Linked DNA regions of Homo sapiens. The protein of the gene in region 3 purifies or fractionates together with the protein of the main gene of each other region. This does not show direct contact. Each region holds a gene or a part of one and is shown on either strand. Other genes may lie near its edges.

The links.
Region 1: the proteins of MMP10 (region 3) and HS3ST1 purify together in Homo sapiens (affinity purification with mass spectrometry; one large-scale study listed by BioGRID and IntAct). This does not show direct contact.
Region 2: the proteins of MMP10 (region 3) and ITIH2 purify together in Homo sapiens (affinity purification with mass spectrometry; one large-scale study listed by BioGRID and IntAct). This does not show direct contact.
Region 4: the proteins of MMP10 (region 3) and GAL purify together in Homo sapiens (affinity purification with mass spectrometry; 2 studies listed by BioGRID and IntAct, with this or other methods). This does not show direct contact.
Region 5: the proteins of MMP10 (region 3) and NPW purify together in Homo sapiens (affinity purification with mass spectrometry; one large-scale study listed by BioGRID and IntAct). This does not show direct contact.
Region 6: the proteins of MMP10 (region 3) and NUCB1 purify together in Homo sapiens (affinity purification with mass spectrometry; one large-scale study listed by BioGRID and IntAct). This does not show direct contact.

The regions. Positions count from the first base shown.
Region 1 is NC_000004.12:11,401,395-11,404,894, forward strand, and holds part of HS3ST1 (heparan sulfate glucosamine 3-O-sulfotransferase 1 precursor), read right to left. Parts: intron 1-3,500. UniProt on the Homo sapiens protein: Sulfotransferase that utilizes 3'-phospho-5'-adenylyl sulfate (PAPS) to catalyze the transfer of a sulfo group to position 3 of glucosamine residues in heparan. Catalyzes the rate limiting step in the biosynthesis of heparan sulfate (HSact).
Region 2 is NC_000010.11:7,727,316-7,730,815, reverse strand, and holds part of ITIH2 (inter-alpha-trypsin inhibitor heavy chain H2 precursor), read right to left. Parts: intron 3,114-3,500; coding exon 2,988-3,113; intron 865-2,987; coding exon 683-864; intron 1-682. UniProt on the Homo sapiens protein: May act as a carrier of hyaluronan in serum or as a binding protein between hyaluronan and other matrix protein, including those on cell surfaces in tissues to regulate the localization, synthesis and degradation of hyaluronan which are essential to cells undergoing biological processes.
Region 3 is NC_000011.10:102,774,129-102,777,628, forward strand, and holds part of MMP10 (stromelysin-2 preproprotein), read right to left. Parts: intron 2,649-3,500; coding exon 2,484-2,648; intron 2,297-2,483; coding exon 2,152-2,296; intron 1,194-2,151; coding exon 1,060-1,193; intron 1-1,059. UniProt on the Homo sapiens protein: Can degrade fibronectin, gelatins of type I, III, IV, and V; weakly collagens III, IV, and V. Activates procollagenase.
Region 4 is NC_000011.10:68,687,544-68,691,675, reverse strand, and holds the end of GAL (galanin peptides preproprotein), read right to left. Parts: intron 3,836-4,132; exon of another isoform or gene 3,673-3,835; intron 3,663-3,672; coding exon 3,576-3,662; intron 2,885-3,575; exon of another isoform or gene 2,828-2,884; coding exon 2,750-2,827; intron 760-2,749; coding exon 689-759; 3' UTR 501-688; downstream 1-500. UniProt on the Homo sapiens protein: Endocrine hormone of the central and peripheral nervous systems that binds and activates the G protein-coupled receptors GALR1, GALR2, and GALR3.
Region 5 is NC_000016.10:2,018,621-2,021,255, reverse strand, and holds NPW (neuropeptide W preproprotein), read right to left. Parts: upstream 1,472-2,635; 5' UTR 1,355-1,471; coding exon 944-1,354; intron 724-943; coding exon 637-723; 3' UTR 501-636; downstream 1-500. UniProt on the Homo sapiens protein: Plays a regulatory role in the organization of neuroendocrine signals accessing the anterior pituitary gland. Stimulates water drinking and food intake. May play a role in the hypothalamic response to stress.
Region 6 is NC_000019.10:48,906,812-48,910,311, reverse strand, and holds part of NUCB1 (nucleobindin-1 precursor), read right to left. Parts: intron 1-3,500. UniProt on the Homo sapiens protein: Major calcium-binding protein of the Golgi which may have a role in calcium homeostasis. Acts as a non-receptor guanine nucleotide exchange factor which binds to and activates alpha subunits of guanine nucleotide-binding proteins (G proteins).

The DNA.
Region 1 (3,500 bases), on a different chromosome or scaffold from region 3:
AGTGCAATGGTGTGATCTCAGCTCACCGCAACCTCCGCCTCCCCGGTTCAAGTGATTTTCCTGCCTCAGTCTCCCGAGTAGCTGAGATTACAGGCATGTGCCACCACGCCCAGCTAATTTTGTATTTTTAATAGAGATGGGCTTTCTCTATGTTGGTCAGGCTGGTCTCGAAATCCCACCCTCAGGTGATCTGCCTGCCTCGGCCTCCCAAAGTGCTGGGATTACAGGCATGAGCCACTGCGCCTGGCCTGTCACCACCATTTTATAGAGGGTAGTCTTGTCTAAGGACACAATTCTATTAGTCTATTTCAAAATTTAGAGCCCAAATTGAAAACTCTAAACTCAGTGTTCTTTATCCACAAACCACATCTTTTCCACAAAACTTCTCCTCTTTACCTATTTAAGATTTATAACATTTAGGCAGTAAAGGACACAGGAACTGCTGGCCTAGATGCTGTGGGGTTCCACAAGACAGACCAGTCAAGGGTTTATGTTTTCAAGGAGCTGATACTCATCAGTCTGTGTTTCACGCTATCCCCTAAAGAGGAGATTAGTTGCTTTCACTTGAGTCATCTCTGTTAAAACACATTAAGGGAAGCGTAAGAGACAGGCCTGGCTTGGGGACTGAGGGATTTACAAAGCTAGTAAAAATATTCTCCATCAAGAGGACTCATCATCTTTTGTACGGTAGTTTCAAAATTTACTTCATTAGTTTAAAACTTGTCCAGAATGAATAAAGGAAGAACAAATTCCAGGACATCCATTTTTATGATCAACCAGCTAATCTACCTTTCTCAGATATTGTTATCTTCTTTGAAAAACATATTAAAGAGCAAGTAATCAAATAGATGGAAGGTTTTAGAGAACCACAGTGCACTGGAGAAGGGACCTGAGAGATCAGTGATGTAACTCTTTAAGAAAAAATCAAGAATGCTTTAGAAAGGATAGCCAAGAACGATGAGGTTTCAGGTTGGTTCTACCGATTGGTGAACTAAATTTAACAGGCCAATTTTTTTAGTCAAGTGATGGTTTCAGGGTGTTTCAGCTGAATTTCATTTCCTTCTCAAGTCACCTATGTGGTTCGACCAAATGTACCAATTGTGCTTGGCTCTTACATGTTTGAGATGTGAGAATGTATGCAATTGTATGTGCATGCTTGAGTGTGTCTGTATGTGTATGCATGCATGTGTGTGTGTGTGTGCAGGTATAACAGGTAGGTCAAGTGAGAGAGGGACTAACTACTACCCTTTAGAGAGCTATACTGTGTGTTGGTCACTGCTATCACCATCTTATAGTTCCATGTTCAGACTCAGGGAACAACACATTCATATTATTTGATACCTAAGTGTAGAGGCAGAGGCCAGATCTGAAATTCATATTATCTGACTGTTTATGCTCCTTCAACTCTAACCTGAGGCATCCTGGTTAGTGTAGTGTACATCTGAGGTTTCTTTCCTGAAGGAGAATTACCAGCAGACAGTAGAGAAGAAACTAAATATAGTTTGTCCTTTATGAAAGAAAATAACAACAACGTATTGGGAAGTTAAGTAGCTTATAAGCTCCTTGTTTGTATTTTAATCCTTTCTAAAAATGTATTTACTTATGTCTAGACCTTTTTCATTCAAAAATATTTGAGGCTAATAGAGAAAGAAATTAGCTAATGTCTTATATACACATATGCAAGTATATACGCACACATATACATACACACATACTATATATAGCATATATATCATGTGTATACCCCATGTGTATCTTTTATGTGTATATGTAAAAATGTGTATAAGTACATATGTGTTTGTGTGTGTAAATGTATGCACACATATATTCATAGCTAAATATAGTATAACCTGTTTTATATTACATACACACTGTGGGCATTGGGAGCCAACTTCCTCTTGTGGTTTTGTAATTTGGACTTCCCAGTGGCACAGAAAGGATTTCTGGTCCTTTTTGTAACACTCTCAGAAACAAAAAGATTCCCAAGCTCAGGTGAACCTGTAAGCCATTCCTGTGTGCCACCTTGATCTTGACAATGAAGTTATAAACATCAGGGAAGAAGGGAGTCACTTAGTCCCTGCCTTTCACACCCCAAGATGACTTGCCCAGTGTCACATAGTAAATCTGTTCCTAGGACTTTTGGCTCCAGAAGTCCAGTTCTGTAGTCTAGTTGCTGTTACTACTGTCTTCCGAGTAAGTGGTTGTAATGTAAAATAATGACAATATTTTTGGGATTCCATAGAAGAAAAACCCAACAAAATCTACCCAGCAATGACAACTCCCTGGCCACCAACTTCCAGTGTCAGCTGACACACAGGGTATGTGTAGTACAGGGTCAAACTTGCTCATTTGTTCTGTTCAGTAGAAGGGTCCAAATGAATTGCACAGGCCCTGGAGTCAGGATTCCTGTCTCTAGTTTGGACCTTGGTCAAAGTGACTTAACCTCTCTTAGCTTCAGTTTCCTCATCTGTAAAATGGTAATAATTCCACCTGCTTCAAATGATTACTTTGAGACTGAAATGAAACAATGTGTGTCAGGACTGTCCAATATAAATATATTGTGTATAACATATGCATTCAGACATTTTAAAACATATATTCTACATAGCTTAATAGATCTAAAGTGTTATCACTCTAACCTATAATCACTATATAATTTTTCTTTTTTGAGACAGAGTCTTCCTCTGTCGCCCAGGCTGGAGTGCAGTGACATGATCTCAGCTCACTGTGACCTCTGCATTCTGGGTTCAAGTAGTTCTTGTGCCTCAGCTTCCCAAGTAGCTGGGACCACAGGTGTGTGCCACCACAGCTGGCTAATTTTTGTATTATAATTTTAGTAGAGATGGGGTTTCGCCATGTTGGTCAGACTGGTCTCGAACTCCTGACCTCAAGTGATCCACCTGTTTCGGTCTCCCAAAGTGCTTGGATTCCAGGTGTGAGCCACCATACCTGGCCTAATCACTATATAAAATTAATGAAATATTTTGCATTTTTTTCTACCCAGTCTTCAAAATCCAAGTGCATATATATTTCCTGTGTAGCACATCTCAAGGACACATATGGCTGGTGGCAATTGAGTTAGAGAGCACAGAGATAGATAGCACTGGGCATGTTTGCAATTCTTAATCTGAGAGGTCTTTAAGTGTGGAACACACTCTCCTGAAAGCAAGATTCTCTACGCACTCACAGATTAGGAGCTTCCTGAACAGGAGAAGAACCAGGAAGGCAGGTTTGAACCTGCAGGCAGCACAAAGGCAAATTCGATCTTCTCCCTCAAGAAACAAACCAGGTAAAAGTAAACAAATGGGACCTTTTGACAGTTGAAGCACTTGGCTGATGTGGGCATGGATACAGAATTCTCTATAGCACCTGGAGCTGAGGCCACATCCTTGGCAAAAGCAATGATTGCAGCTCCCATCTGCAGCAATTGCTACTGAGCAGGCACTAGACTGGCAACTTTCCACACAGGGCTTGCTGTAATCCTCACTGCAAGTCCTCAA
Region 2 (3,500 bases), on a different chromosome or scaffold from region 3:
CTCTTACTTGTTCCCAAATTTAAATACGATGCCTGGTACTGACAAAGAGCAGGGAAAAACATGTTCTTTCCCTACATCATTTTCTCATCTATTTAATCAAAACAAACAAGTAGTTTGTGTCTTTTCAATATATGTATTTTAATTAAAAAAATTATCTGTTGAACAGATGGATCTCACTATGTTGCCCAAGCTGGCCTTAAACCTCTGGGCTCGAGTGATCCTCCCACCTTGGCCTCCAAAGAGCTGGGATTACAGGCATGAGCCACCACACTCAGCCTGTATCTTAATACTTAAGAAAATTTACACTGTGAAAAATTGATACCAAGATGCCAATGCACGTTAAAGAGAAAACGGTTGGCCATGATGATAAGAAGACCAATTGCTGGTGGGGCAGGAGAGCTACAAGGAGCTTTGATGACGCTCAGAAGGCCTTTTTGTTCAGGGGGTAGGACAGCTGTTCCCAACACCCATCTGCCTCATACCTCACTGTTACTGCAGAAATATGAGGGTGGGGGGAAACATGTGAGAAAGGAACTGGGCACTTCCCTGATCCTTGCAACCAAATATGGCTGAGATCATGACCATTTTGAGTTAAGTTCAGTTATGCATCATACCTGCATCAGATATGGGTAGTTAAATGATTTCCAGTGAAGAATAAAAAAAGAACAGAAGAAAATGTTACCTTAAGCTGGGAAGACGTGTCCTGGTTTCCATAAATCCTTTGTGCAATTCCATGGTTTTCATTGGACAGTCTCTTCAAAAAATCATAGTCCACATCAAATCCCATGCCCAAACTGAACAAGGAGATATTGTCTTGGATGTTCTCCTTAACGTTTTTCTGAATTTTTGACAGTTTTAGTTCGCCTAAAGTTGGTGATGTCCGAAAGGAAAGGAATGAAGAAGCAATATCATAAATTTTCTGGAAAATCCAGGGAGGGCAGTTTAGTAAAGTGTGTCCAGATTAAAACTGCATTTCCCTTTTGACCCAGTAACTCAATTTCTAGTTTTTCTTAGAGATGCACTCGTACATGTTGAAATGAAGTGTGGGTTGTGTTGCATAGCAACATTATTTGGGAATTAGCAACATATTGGAAACAACATAAATATGCACCAATGAGGGCGCTTGGTTAGATGATGATACATTTAAACCGTGAGATACTATGCAGCTATTAAAAAGGACATGGAAACTCCTTATGTATGTATACCAGACAATCTCAAGGGCATGTTTAGAGGAGAAAAAAAAAACAAGGTAAATATCAGGGTACCTAGGATGCATTTGCATGCATGCATGTATAAATGTATGTATGTGTATGTATGCATATACACATACATGTGTGCAAACATGTATATATAGTATACAGGCATGCATAAACTATTTGTGGAAAGATACACAAGAAACTGGTAACCAGTGACTGATTCCAGGGACAGGAACTGAATGGTTGAGAAACAGGAGTGAGAAACCATGATTAAACCAAATTATGGTTTAATTTTGTTTTTTTTTTTGAGACAGAGTCTCACTTTGTTGCCCAGGCTGGAGTGCAGTGGCACGATCTCAGCTCACTGCAACCTCCGCCTCCTGGGTTCAAGGGATTCTCCTGTCTCAGCCTCCCGAATAGCTGGGATTACAGGCACACGCCGCCCTGTCAGGCTAATTTTGTATTTTTAGTAGAGATGGGGTTTCACCATGTTGGCCAGGCTGGTCTTGAATTCCTGACCTCAGGTGATCCACCCACCTCAGCCTCCCAAAGTGCTGGGATTACAGGTGTGAGCCACCATGCCTGGCAAGTTTAATATTTTAAACTATATTTCCTTTTCCACCTTATGATTTCATTCAAAACTTGAATTTTGAAAATAATCTGATCTGAGGGAGAAAACATTGGCTCTACAACAAATACATAACACTGGCTCATTCTAGTCTCGTTATTAATAAGATGGTTGCTCTCTGGCTTTCTAAAGCTCTGACTGCCATTGTTTTTGCCTCGTGCATTTTCATTCTGCTTGGCTGTGTCAGGACGTGTTAGACTCGGTCCTAGTCTGTACGACAGCACACTCAGGCAACACAATCTGGCATTCGCTATTACTTACAGTGGCCAGAATAAAGACACAAGTAAAACAAAGATAGCTTGGCACAGTGGCTCACACCTGTAATCTCAACATTTTGGGAGTCCGAGGTGGGAGGACTGCTTGAGCCCAGGATTTTGAGATCAGCCTGAGCAACATAGTGAGACTTCGTCTCTCCAAAAAAAAAAAGAAAGAAAAAAAAGAAATTAGCTGAGTGTGGTGGTGCACACCTGTAGTCCCAGCTACTCAGGAGGCTGAGGTAGGAGGATCACTTGAGCATGGGAGGTTGAGGCTGCAGTGAGCTGTGTGTGCTCCACTGCACTCCCTCCTGGGTGACAGAGCAAGACCCTGTCTTCAAAAATAAATAAAATAAACTAATGTAACAAAAATAAAAATAAATAATAGAAGTAGGGAGATGTTGCTGCCCATTTTGTAGAAAGAAAAATGTTTAACTTCAAGGTTGTGTCAGAGAGCAGTCATTTCTCCAGGTGCAACCGGGAGAAGTGTGGAGAATAATAGGGAATATGCTACTGTGGCCTCCAAAGGTACTGCTGGGAGATCTGGGATCAATACTCATCATTCACCACCCCCATACACCATCTTCACATACCTCAAGTTGAGGAAATAGATGCATTTCCCTAGAATGCATCAGCAATCCTCACAACATACTATTAAAATTCAGACTCAGATTTCTGCATATTGTGGAGGTGGAACTGAGGCATTCAAGAGCGCCCTTGCTGAAAGTGTCTGAGCAGTAGCTTAAGGGGTGAGGGCTGCAGGATCAGAAGACCTCCTTTAGGAAGCATGGGTTTAAAATGTTCTAGAAACTCAGGCAAATGCCATTAGAGTTCCCCTTTTAGGCAAACCACCATTCCAAGAAACAACAGTGAAAGTGTTTGTCGTGAGAAGGTTGAAGTGACACTTGCCCACTGTTGGATCTCCATCAGAAACCAAAATGATCAGCGAGACGGAGTTGGGGTCTAACAGTCCCAAGTTATTGGCTTCATTCAAAATGAAGATTGCCCGTAGGAGTGCTTCGTTGATGTTTGTGCCTGTTGAAGTAGCATAATGAAACGTTGGGTATGCGTTCTCGCCACACGCAGAAAATCCCATTCTGGATTCAGACTCATATGTCGGCTGATCACTTATCCATCACTTATTCCATGCCAAAATCATTTCATTGCTTTCTGAGTGACACAAACTGTGCTCAAGCTGGTGGTCCCCCAGTGCAGTGAAATATTCACTTTGAAATAAACTATCCCCTTAGAGATGAACTAGCCCTTTCAAAGCACAGACTGTTAGCTTGTTAAACACCAGATTAAAGTATCCAAATCAGCCTTGCCAAGATACTCTGAAGATAGTAACATTTTATGCTTTATGCAGGCAATAAAGAAGGCCAGTGTCACTGAACCTTTTTCTGAGAGACATTAAAACGGTTC
Region 3 (3,500 bases):
GAAAAAATAAAAATGAGAAATTAAAGAATTAAAATTGAACAAAATGAAAATACTGCATATCGAAATTTGCTGGATGAAACAGAAGAAATGGTTATTTATAGGTATAAATGCTTGTATTAGAAAAGAAAAAAGTTACAAGTTAATAAGGTAAGTATCAAACTTAAGCTATAACAATAATAACAGGATCAATTCAAAGTAAACAAAAATTAAGGCAACAATAAAGATATGAACAGAAACTAATTAAACGGGAAATCAAAATATAATATAGAGAGTAAATAAAGCCAAAAGTCAGTCCTTTGAAAAGATCAGTAAAATTATTACATATATTATGAGATTGATGAAGAAAAAAGAGAAAGGCAAAAGGATTCAGTATTAAGAATGAAAAAGAAAACAAAACTTCAGCAATAATTCAAATTACAACAAAATAATTTTCCAAAAACTTTTTCTGATGGATTTGAAAACAGACAAAATTGGCAAATTTTTAGAAAAACATGTTAACAAAACTGACTCAAGAAGTAATAGAAACTCTAATAGCATATTACCAATAAAACAAATTGAAACAGTAGTTTAAAAGTCTGATAAAGAAGCCTCTATACCTGAATATCTCCATTAGTTAATTTATCTCTCCCTGCACTGATACTACATCTTACCGATTAAAGTTTTATAACACAGGGCTTTTCTCCTCATCTAATAAGATGGGTTCACCAGGAGCATCCTGGCTATTCTTGGCCTTTCCTCTGCCATATAAATTGTAAAACTAATTTGTCAAGTTCCATGAAAAATCTTTTGGCATTTGGTATTTGAAATGAAAATGTCTTGTATCTATAGATAAATTGACATTTTTACTATCTTGCATTTTTTATGAATATGGAATGCCACCTATTTTCTTAAGAGGTCTCTAAAATAAAGTTTATAATGTTCTTTGTACAAATTTTATTTAAGTGTTAGCACAAGGTCTTTCAGTAATCTAAACTTTAATATAATGGATAAAACTCATGTCAATAAAATTTTTGCAATAGGATTTATTCCAGCAAGTTGAAATTCTTATATAGTACTCACCTTTAAAAATAAAAACGGTGTCCCTGCTGTTAACTTCATATGCAGCATCCAAATATGATGGAAGAGAGGGCCAAAATGCAGAAATCAAATGAAATTCAGGTTCAGGGTTCCAGTGGGATCTTCGCCAAAAATATCTGTAATACATAAAATTACTTGCAATTGTCTTTCTCTTTTAGATATGTGAAAAAAAAATTCTTTTTTTTTAAATCCATGCTAATTCACCCATTCATAGAAGTCTGTATTAAACCATCCTCCTGCATGTGATTCCAGGGTAATGAAATCGATGGCAGGACTTGTGACTGGTTCCAGTAAAATTATTTAGCTTGGTTCCATTCTAAAAGTCCATAAACAGTGTGCATATTATGTCCTAATATTTTAAAAAATATTATGTGTATATTGATGCTTGTATATGAGTAGAACATTTTTGTAAAGAGTCAAAGGAAATTGGTAGCAGTGGTTGCACATATGAAGGGAGCTGGAGGACGGTAGGCCAAAGACTGGAGAGAGATTTTTTAACTCCGTATCTTTTGGTAGTGTTTAAATATTGTGCCACAAGCACATATCACTTTTTTCCAAAAGTAATTAATTTAAATAGTAGCATATATTAGTAAATGGAAAGATACCACCCTGCTTCTAAGGATCCACCAGTGCTTTCTGAAGAAGTTCCATGATATATGATATTTTAAAAAAATGAACGAAACAGATATAACTCCCTGCCTTAATCAAACTTACAGTCTAGGGACCAAGAATCATCCCTTATAAGTCTGTAAAAAATGATCTGGACAATTCTAAGAAGATGTTAAAAATTCAGCAAGAACTAGATCTGAATGATTTTAAAATGTAGAGGAAATTTTATATTTTAAAAAATCTCTGTCAAGCAGAAAAAGTAACTACTGGGTACTAGGATTAGTACTGGGGTGACAAAATTATCTGTACAACAAACCCCTGTGACACGAGTTTATCTATATAACAAACCTGCACATGTACCCCTGAACCTAAAATTAAAAAAAAAGCTCTGTCAAGTTTCTGTTTTTCTTTCTAAGCACTGTACATCAAAAGAATAGATAGGAAAATATAATTTTCTGGTCTGACCTGTCTTTAAAGAACAGATATTCTCCCCTCAGAGTGCTGATGGCATCGAAGGACAAAGCAGGATCACACTTGGCTGGCATCTCAGATCCCGAAGGAACAGATTTTGTGGGCACCAGGGGTTCCTCAGTAGAGGCAGGGGGAGGTCCTAAAGGAAACAGATTTGGGGATGCAAACATTAAAAAAAAATGTGATGCATCTGTCAATTTGTGTGCCTTTCAAACATTCTCAAAGTGCTTCAGGCCAAATCAGAAATACTTTAGGTAGCACTGGAAAGCTTTCTGGAGGACTGTCATTGTAGATCTGCAATGCCTAATTTTTCCAGCATCACTCACCGTAGAGAGACTGAATGCCATTCACATCATCTTGCGAAAGGCGGAACTGGGCGAGCTCTGTGAATGAGTTGTAGAGTGGGTACATCAAAGCTTCAGTGTTGGCTGAGTGAAAGAGCCCCAGGGAGTGGCCAAGTTCATGAGCAGCAACGAGGAATAAATTGGTGCCTGTATGAAAATCATAAATGTTCAGAATTCACCAGCTCTTTCTTCCATAAATACACATACAGAACATATGCCAGCTGTACAGGCCATCCTTGAAACCACAATGTCTTTTCAGTATTTGTGGATTGGTTCATTGATTGGCACATTCCATACTTTATAGAAATTAATGTGTTTTTCAAGGTTGACTTTAAGTCAATATATAAGACAGTTTTTCACCGTATCCCTCCCTAGATCCCTCCTTGGTCAGGAAAACTAAGACACTTTTCCTATATTGACAAATGAGAAGCATTATTTTCAAAAGATTTTTTTTTGAAAGGACAAGACTAATAGCATGTCAGTAAATATAACTCTTCGTTGTCTAAAAATAAAAAGTCATTGTTCAAATTTAGGAACACTTGCCAGTTGCAACCTTGGTTAAAATTAATCATATAACATTTACGTTCAAACTTTTAAGCCAGAAGACTGTGGTTATTTCTTGTGGGGTTTAGTCTGATTTTCTCTTCCTCCTCTTCATCATACTCAAGTAATTTTTTTTTTTGAGACAGAGTCTCATTCTGTCGCCCAGGCTGGAGTATGTGTCCAAGCGATTCTCGTGCCTCAGCCTCCTGAGTAGCTGTGATTACAGGCACGTGCTACCATGCCCGGCTAATTTTTGTATTTTTGTTGAGATAAGGTTTCACCATGTTGGCTAGGCTGGTCTCAAACTCCTGGTCTCAAGTGATTCACCCAACTTGGCCTCCCAAAATGCTGGGATTACAGGCATTAGCCACTGGTGCCTGGCCATAATCAAATAATTTTTGATTGTCAAAAATCTTCCCAGTAATAGGTGCCATTGGATGTGTACAATCTTTAGTT
Region 4 (4,132 bases), about 34 Mb from region 3:
GAGATATTCCCACAGGCCTTCCTTCACACAGCACCATCCCTGCACACACCTCCTGCCCTTGCCTTTCTACCTGCCCGCCCATCTCTCCTCTCCTGCCTTGCTCCTGGCCCTCCCACCTGGCCAACACGTCTGTTCTCAGCACTGACCACCTCCATGAGTACCACGCAACTCACCCATCTGTTTAAGGTTGTTGTAGTCTTTTTCATTCCCATCTCCCTAAAATATCAGCTCCACGAGGGCAGGGGTTTTGTCTGTTTTGTGTTTTTGTTCATCTCAGTAACAGACTTACCTTCATAATTACATTTGACTCAGCTTAATATGGAGATAAATTTATGTCCCCTGGACATGCAATAACAGGTGGTGTCTCAGATGCTCTTGACGGTAGAATTTGGGTTTAAAATTCATGTCTAATCCACGATTATGATCAAGCTTTATCTTTTAAAACCCATGGGTGGCGCTGGTGATGAGACAGAGGTGTGGAAGAAAAAGACAATTGCAAGTAATTGCTATTCTTTATTTTGCCACTCAAAATAATTACCAAAAAAAAAAAATCTTAAATGATAACAACACAACATCAAGGCAAAGAGAACAGGAATGGCTGACTCTGCATAAATTGGCCGAAGATTATCCATTATCTTAAGGTTTGACTTCAGGTTACAGCACACAGACAAACATGCCCAGGAGGCTCTCAGGACCGCTCGATGTCTTCTGAGGAGGCTGCGGCGGGGAGATCCAGGAGGCGGTCGAGGGCACCGGCCTCTGCAAAGGGAAGAGCCACATCTGAGCAGCAACTTCTTAATATGCACATGAGAGAATTACAACCACGACACATGCTACAGGAAGCGGCGTGTGGTCGTCCTCTGTAAAGATTCTTACCAGATTAAACCCAGAATCAGGGACAACACTCTGTATTCCTCACTTCGTAATGATTTAACTCCCACAGTTAGTAAGCATTTAAAACTGTCAGACTTTTAAATTCAGGCTTTAAAGAGGTATAATTCCTAGCTGAGTAATGAGAGCTGGTATATCCTAAGGAAAGAGTTTCCATGTTACAAAATTAAAAACAAATGAAAAACAAAAATCTAGCAGAGTCCCTCTGCCCCTTGTAGGAAAAGTCACCCCAGCTTTTCTCCCAGAGGCTCCACTGGGCTCCAACAGAGGGAACTTGGTGACTCGGTTTTGAGATTTCTAATGAACACCGCCTTTTCCAAGACCTTCTCTGGCAGTCTCCTTCCCCCGCTCCCCTCCCCTCACTCCTCTTCCCTCTCCCCATCGCCACCTAAAGTGCAGCCCGATAACACTGCAAATGAAAAACATCCTGATCCAAAATGAACCCAAGGATTAGCCTTGATTTTTCAAAACTGGACAAAACTGTGATGTGCAACTGAAGGTCTCCACTGGAGAGGCTAACGGTCCATCCCTCCTCCCCACCACCAGCTCCCTGTTAACTCTCAGAGCAGCAGGTGAAGGTCTTCTCCACTGGAGAGGCTAAGTGGTCCATCCCTCCTCCCCTCCACCACCTCCCCCTTAACTCTCAGAGCACCAGGTGAAGGTCTTCTCTGCTGGAGAGGCAAAGCGGTCTATCCCTCCTCCCCACCACTGCCTCCCCCTTAACTCTCAGAGCACCAGGTGAAGGTCTTCTCTGCTGGAGAGGCAAAGCGGTCCATCCCTCCTCCCCACCACCACCTCCCTGTTAACCCTCAGAGCACCGGGGCCGCTTTCCGGCTCCCTCCACTGCTGCAGTAGGACCTGTGTGGTTATCTGATCAAGGCCAGATGCCCATCGTAGAATGAATGCCAAGCGTAGTGTGCGGAGGTCTCCTCATCCCCAGTGTTTGCAGAAGACACTGGAAGCCAGGATCAGAGCCTTTCCAGTTAGATTTCAAGGCAGCCTGCCTGGCAGGAAGGCTGCATAGAGAAACACTGCAGTCTAAGATATGGGCTTCTATTAATTTCCCATGCTTAGAAAATATGGTTTAGGGCCAGGCACAGTGGCTCACGCCTGTAATCCCAGCACTTTGGGAGACTGAGGCAGACAGGTCACTTGAGGCCAGGAGTTCAAGATGAGCCTGGCCAACATGATGAACCCCAGCCTCTACTAAAAATACAAAAATTAGCCAGGCATAATTGTGCGCACCTGTTTTCCCAGCTACCTGGGAAGAAGAGGCACGAGAATCACTTGAGCCCAGGAGGCAGAGGCTGCAGTGAGCTGAGATTGCACCACTACATTCGAGCCTGGGCGACAGAGTGAGATGAAGGAAGGAAGGAAGAAAGAGAGAGAGAAAGAGGGAGGAAGAAAAAGGAAGGAAGGAAGAGAAAGAAGAAAGAAAGAAAAGAGAGAAGAGAAAGAAAAGACAGAGAAAAAAGAAAAGAGAAAAGGTTTAGGACGGTTCACAAAGAACTTGGCCTGTAGTATACCTCTGCCCTAAAAGGTACAGCAGTTGTCACCGTGTGAATAGATATGGTTCCAGTAGAATGAGCTGCACCCTGAGGCCCACTCTCTTCCTGGGACCAGCGCTGGCCCGATGGCCCTCCACGACGGTAGAATGCCCCTGCCGCAATCCCAGCCCTCTGGAGCTAGCTCTAGTGTTACATTCTCTGTTATCCCGACACACAGCCAAACAGGACTTTGTACGTAGATAAGTAATCGGCTACTTCCCAGGGGGATTCTATGGGTTCTCTTCTCGATGGGCCTTTTACGTTTCCAGTGTACTAAGAGATGAATGTTAAGTTGATGATATTTCACATACCTTTGAGATGCAAGAAAGACAGAAACTCAATGATTGTGCGCATGATATTGTTTTCAGGTATGGACCTGTCAAAGCTTCCTAGAAGAGAAAAGATCAACATTCACGACTTGTGCAGAGGGTGCTTCAGTGTCTCAGGTCATCCCCCTCCCTACAGAGGAGCTGGGCGCTGCAAGGTCAATGATCTGATCCCAGCAGCCTGAGGCCCTGCTGTGCTTTCCAAGGCCCTTGTTCAATGTGAGGGAGTTGGGGAGATATCCAGTTCGAGGCCTCGCTTTTCTTCTTCTTCTTCTTTTTAATTGAGATGGAGTCTCACTCTGTTGCCTAGGCTGGAATGCAGTGTCATGATCTTGGCTCACTGCAACCTCCGCCTCCCAGGTTCAAGTGATTCTCGAGCCTCTGCCTCCCAAGTAGCTGGGATGACAGGCACCCACCACCACGCCTGGCTAATTTTTATATTTTTGGTAGAGACAGGGTTTTGCCATGTTGGCCAGGCTGGTCTTGAACTCCAGACCTCAGGTGATCCACCCGCATCAGCCTCCCAGAGTGCTGGGATTACAGGCAGGAGCCATCGTGCCCAGTCCCGCTCTTCTGGAGGCCCTGGTGCCTGGGCAGCCTCCCAGCCTAGAAGGACCCCTTGCTGTCTCGGGTTTGCACGTTCTGTTTGCAGCTGCTGACAGGTGTGGCGAGGCCACATCGTCTTAGTCAAGTCATGGCCAGGCTTGGGCTGCAGCTGTGGACAGCCCCGACACCCACAGCTGTCCCCTGCATGCACCTGGGAGCTGGTGGAAGTGAGGTGCCCCGGGGCCCGGGATAGGAGTCCTCTCACCTGGTTTCATGTCATCTTCGGGCCGCAGCTCCCGCTTGCTGGTGAGGCCATTCTTGTCGCTGAATGACCTGTGGTTGCCAACGGCATCTGTTTGCAGATCAGAGAGGAAAGCCTCTGGGTGTGACTGTCATGCACGCCCTCCCCACACCCAAAGAAGGACACAGGGCTGCCTGTAGCCAACACACACACGCAACTCGACTGTGAAATAGAGCCCAGGGACAGACACCAGAGCAGAGGGAGCGATTCTCCACCCAGCTGAGGTAAGAGCTTGGCCGCTCACACCAGGGTCAAAGGGAATGTGAGGGTTTGCACAGGGTGGGTGGGAGAAAGGGAGGTGTGGCTCCTGAAGTGGGGGAGAGGCCCAGAACCTGCCCTGTTGCAGGGGTTGCGCCTGGGTCCAGAGGAGCTGGCATCTGAGCTGGCACTGAGCTGGCATCAAACTGGGTGACTCCCTGGCAGACAACAGGAGCTGGGTCCTCATGTCCCTGAAAGCATGGGGGACGCTGAAGAGTTTAAGTTGTGACTGAATCTGATTTTTATTTTCACTCTGGCAGCTG
Region 5 (2,635 bases), on a different chromosome or scaffold from region 3:
AGGTCAGGAGTTCAAGACCAGCACGTCCAACATGGTGAAACCCTGTCTCTACAAAAATACAAAAATTAGCTGGGCATCATGGTGGGTGCCTGTAATCCCAGCTACTCAGGAGGCTGAGGCGGGAGAATCGCTTGAACCTGGGAAGTGGAGGTTGCAGTAACCCGAGATCGCGCCATTGCACTCCAGCCTGGACAACAAAGAGAGACTGCATCTCAAAAAAAAAAAAAAAAAAAAGCAAGAAGCAAGGTGGGGCTCAGGTGGAGGGGCCCCTCCTCCCGGGGCATGACCCAGAAGAAGGGGACCAGGGGTTCTTAATCAATCTGCGGAAGCCTTTGGCTAAGGGAGGGAGGGGGTGCCGGGAGATCCAGGTTTGAAATGAATGCTGAGTGCCCGGCGCTTCCCCTGGTCGGCGAGGGAGGGGCCCCTGACATTTGCCAGGGCGTGGGCGCGCCTGTCTGCGCCCTGAGCTAGACGGCAAAGTACACAAGCAGACGAAGGGGTCGCATGCGGGGGCGCAGGAGTCAGGCGGATTTTATTGACCGGACGGCAGGCGGGGTCTATGAGCGGCTCCTGGAAGCGCGCGGCCACTCCTCCTGGGTCAGGCGCGGAGGCGCCACGGGCGGGCGGGGGACGCTGTCAGAACGGTCCGGGGGCCAGGCAGGGCAGGCCAAGGCGGTTTGCTGCGGGGTCCACCGCTGGGCGGGAGACGTCTCTCCGAAGTCTCTAACGAGAACACAGCAAGGCCGTGGGGAGGAGGCTGTGGCCCTCCAACCACCGCCCCCGGGTGCCAGGGTCGAGCCTGCCCAGGGAAAGCTCTTCTGGGCGCGGAGCAGGGAATGGAAGGGCCCGAGGGTGCCCCCTGAACGCGCGGCTCCGTGCTCCGGCTCAGACCTCCCGAGACCCCCTTGCCCGCGGCGGTCCAGGCCTCTCCCCTCTCACGTACCTGGCCAGCTCCGCTGAAGTCCAGGGACTCCGGTTCCAGCGCAGGCTCTGGGGCGCGCGGGCTCCGGGGCGCACGGACGGGGATCCCTGCCTGGGAGCTCCTGCGTCGCGTCTCCCACAGCTCCTGAACCCACGAGGGCAGCAGGAGAGGAGCCTCGCGGGCTGCGGGTTCGGGGGAGAGGGTGTCCCTGGCCAGGGGCCCGGCGGCCGCGCGCAGCGCGCGGCGCCACAGATAGGGTGAGCGACGCAGCCCCATGAGCAGGCCAGCGGCGCGGCCCACCGTGTGGTAGCGGGGACTCGCCACGTGCTTGTACCACGCGCCGGAGGGCAGCGGCAGCAGGAGCAGAAGCAGCAGCAGTGCCAGCCGCGGCCGGCTCGCGGGAGCCCCCCGCTCCCCTGGGCGCCACGCCAGGGCGCTCGCGTCGACGGCCGCCCGGCGGGGCGGGCCACGAACCGGCTCGGCTGGGTTTGGGCGCGCAGTGGAGTTGGGACGCCCAGGTACCGGAGCGCAGGAGGCTGGAGGCGAGCCGTGGGTCCCCTGCAGGCCCAGCTATAACCGCTCGGTGGCCCCGCCTCGTTCCGCCCCCTCAGTACCGCTGGGCTCCCCAGATGGGGGGAGGGACGGAGGGAGGAGAGGGAACCCTGGCAGCTGGCGGGGGACGTGGGTACTTGAGCACCTCACTGAGTGGGCCGCTGGCTGGAACTGGGCTCGAGGCTCCTCTGAGGGGACACGTCCCATTCTCTGCCTGCTCAGCCTCCTCCCTCTAGGAGTGGAAGTGCCAGGGAGTGGGTACTGGGAACACTGATGAGGGAGTAGGGCTGAGGGATGCCCCTTTAGCCAGACTCCTGCCGGTGGGACGACAGCAGAGCGAAGGCCCAGGTGCAGGCAGAGCTACAGTGGCTATTGCAGGAGGGCTGTCGGGGGCCTTCAGCACCATTCAAGACCCCTCTGGGTGAGTCCCCCCAAGAGTTGTCCCTTGTCCTTGCCTAGCATAGCTCCCAAAGCTGTCCCCACACCCTGTCCTGTCCACTGCCACCCCCAGCTTCTCCCCACCAACCCATCTCCCCGCAGAAGCCTTAGAAGCCTCATGTTGGCAACACCAAGCCATCCGTGGGGTCTGCAGTTCTGTGAGGCTTCCAGGAGAAAAAGTCAGCCCCTCCTGGAACCTCTACCCCTGGAGGGGCAGGACAAGGCCTTGCAGACCTCCAGCGCCTCCTCTCTGGTGATGGTCCCCCAAGACCACTTTATCCAGCCAGTCTCAATTTTTGCCTAAACCAACAGCCTGTGGCTTTGCCTGCCTCTGTGCGTCTGTGCCTAACACCTACTCATCCTTCAAGACTCCACTTAAATGGCCCAGATCCTTGGCCGGGCGCGGTGGCTCACACCTGTAATCCCAGCACTTTGGGAGGCCGAGGCGGGCGGATCACCTAAGGTCATGAATTCAAGACCAGCCTGGCCAACGTGGTGAAACCCCATCTCTACGAAAAACACAAAAAATTAGCTGGGTATGGTGGCAGGCACCTGTAATCCCAGCTACTTGAGAAGCTAAGGCAGGAGAATCGCTTGAACCCGGGAGGCGGAGGTTGCAGCGAGCCAAGATTGCATCATTGCACTCCAGCCTGGGCAACAAGAGCGAAACTGCATCTTTTTTTTTTTTTTTGAGACGGATTCTGGCTCTGTTGCCCAGGCTGG
Region 6 (3,500 bases), on a different chromosome or scaffold from region 3:
AAGATCAAGAGATTGAGACCATCCTGGCCAACATGGTGAAACCCCATCTCTAATAAAAACATAAAAAATTAGCTGGGCATGGTGGTGCGCACCTGTAGCCCCAGCTACTTGGGAGGCTGAGGCAGGGGAATCACTGGAACCTGGGAGGCGGAGGTTGCAGTGAGCCGAGATCACGCCACTGCACCAGCCTGGTGACAGAGTGAGACTCCGTCTGAAAAATAAATAAATAAAATAAATACATACATACAAACAAAAGAAAAACATCAAAATTTTTGATAAAGCATCAACCAATCTTAGGGGTTAAATTGCACGCTCCTAAGTTTCTATGTTGAAGTCCTAAGCCCCAGTACCTCAGAATGTGACCTGATTTGGAGACTAGGTCTTTACAGAGGGAATCAGGTTAAGATGAGGTCATTACTGTGGGCCCTAATCCAACATGATTGGTGACCTTATAAAAGGCAGAAATTTATGACTGGGCACAGTGGCTCATGCCTGTAATCCCAGCACTTTGGGAGACTGAGGTGGGAGGATCACTTGGGCTCAGGCATTCGAGACCAGCGTGGGCAACATGGTGAAACCCCATCTCTACAAAAAATATAAAAATTAGCTGTGTGCAGTGGTGTGTGCCTGTAGTCCCAGCTGCTCAGGAGGCTAAGGCAGGAGAATCACTTGAGCGTGGGAGGGGGAGGATGCAGTGAGCCGAGATCGCACCACTGCACTCTAGCCTGGAGGATAGAAGTGAAACCCTGTCTCAAAATAATAATAGGCCGGGCGCGGTGGCTCACACCTGTAATCCTAGCACTTTGGGAGGCCAAGGCGGGTGGATCACCTGAGGTCAGGAATTCGAAACCAGCCTGCCCAACATGGCAAAACTCCATCTGTACTAAAAATACAAAATTATCCAGGCGTGGTGGCGCGTGCTTGTAATCCCAGCTACTTAGGAGTCTGAGGCAGGAGAATCGCTTGAACCTGGGAGGCAGAGGTTGCAGTGAGCTGAGATCGCGCCACCGCACTCCAGCCTGGGCAACGAGAGCAAAACTCTGTCTTGGAAAAAAAAAAAAATAATAATAATAATAATTAATAAAAAATAATAATGGAAGGAGAAATTTGGGCCAGGCACACAGAGAGGAAAGATGGTGTGAAAATGCAGTGAGAAGACGGCCATCTGCAAGCCAAGGAGAGGGGCCTGGTACAGATCCTCCCTCATAGCCCCAGAAGGAACCAACCCTGCCAATACTTTCACTTTGGACTCTGACTGCAGGCCATGAGACAGTCAAGTTCTGTTGCTGAAGCACCTGGTCAGTGGTACTTGGTTACAGCGGCCTCAGCAAACAAGTGCAGCCTCCCTCATATGGGAGTTTCCAAGTAGTCAGGAAGGGGTAGGGTTTCCAGGCAGGAAAGGACAGCGCACACGCTGCCAACACACACTTACCGCACGCATGTCTCCCGAGGCTTCTAGGGGCCCAGGCCTGCGCTGTGCAATGCTGGACCCAAAATGAATCAGCCTGGCCCTGGCCTCCAGTGGCCCTTGGTTAGGTGGGGAGAAAGACACACACACACACACACACACACACACACACACACACACACCCCTTGGTCAAGTGGGCAGAAAGACACACACACACACACACACACACACACACACACACACACACACACACACGGGCAGCTAGAATTTGGGAGACCTAGGCTGCAGTGGAGGCAGCTCCGGCCCTGGCTGAGCCCAGAGGAGTGACAGGTGTGCAGGACACAGGTACAAACTGAATCTCAAATTCATTATTTGTGCCAGGGACGTGTGTTGAGCCGCTATTCCAGGCTGACCCAGCGCCGGCCGCTATGGACACAGCAGGAATCAAATGATGACAGAATTCTGACTCTTGGAGGCCAGGCGGGGTGGCTCATGCCTGTAATCTCAGCAATTTGGGAGGCTGAGGCGGGTGGATCACCTGAGGTCAGGAGTTTGAGACCAGCCTGGCCAACATGGTGAAACCCTGTCTCTACTAAAGATACAAAATTAGCCAGGTATGGTGGCGGGCACCTGTAATCCCAGATACTCAGGAGGCTGAGGCAGGAGAATCGCTTGAACCTGGGAGGCAGAGGTTGCAGTGAGCCGAGATCGCGCCACTGCACTCCAGCCTGGGCGACAGAGTGAGACTCTGTCTCAAAAACAACAACAACCAAAAGAGTTCTGCCTCTTGGAGCACCCAGTCTAGAGAGACAGAGAACAGGCGACCAAGGGATGAACAAAGGAATACCAAGGACACAAATAACACAGAGGCTCCTTCACACAGGACAGCCGGGGCGGTGACACCCTGAGGAGGTGACATTCCAGGGGAGATGGAAGGTCCATGGACCAGGCAAAGAGCCCTGAGAAAGAATGTCACGGGAGAGCGGGGCGAACGGACAAAGGTCCCAAGGCTGCACGCCAGCAATTTCTAAAAATGCTGACGCAAGAAGGTCAGGGTGCATACGGGAAGGGCAGGGTTGGGCGGGTGTGGCCAAGGTCCACCCAGGCTCCGAGCAGACAAGAGGAACATGAATGCGGGCCTGAGGGCACTGGGGTGCCGGGGGCAGGCTCTGGGCAGAGGAGGGACGGGAAGAGCCTGGGTGTTGTGGCAGCTGGATACTGGTGCCCTAAAAGATATCCACATCCTGATCCCCGGAACCTGTGAATGCGTGACCTTTCCGGGCTAAGGGGTCCTGGCGGATGGGATTACATTAAAGACCTTAAGATGGGGGCCAAGGCTGGTGGCTCAGGCCTGTAATCCCAGCACTTTGGAAGGCCGAGACAGGAGGATCACTTGAAGTCAGGAGTTCAAGACCAGCCTGGCCAACATGGCAAAATCAAGTATCTACTAAAAATACAAAATTAGCCAGGTGTGGTGGCACACACCTGTAATCCCAGCTACTTGGGAGGCTGAGGCAGGAGAATTGCTTGAACCCAGGAGGCGGAGGTTGCAGTGAGCCGAGATCGCGCCACTGTAGTGCAGCCTGGGAGACAGAGCAAGATTCTGTCTCACCAAAAAAAAAAAAAAAAAAGGCCAGGCGCGGTGGCTCACACCTGTAATCCCAGCACTTTGGGAGGCCGAGGTGGGCGGATCACGAGGTTAGAGATCAAGACCATCCTGGCTAATACAGTGAAATTCCGTCTCTACTAAAAATACAAAAAATTAGCTGGGCATGGTGGCGGGCGCCTGTAGTCCCAGCTACTTGGGAGGCTGAGGCACAAGAATGGCGTGAATCCAGGAGGCGGAGCTTGCAGTGAGCCGAGATTGCACCACTGCACTCCAGCCTGGGTGACAGAGCGAGACTCTGTCTCAAAAAAAAAAAAAGAAAGATATTAGCTGAGCAAGGAAAAACAGTGTGACCTGATAAATCTCCCGATTTTATCGCTGTACTTATGCAAGAGTATCACACTGAAATGTGTAAGGGTGATGAGATGGTGACTGTGGTGAAGTCCCAAACGTGAGTGACAAAGCAAATGGAGCAAATGTTAACTA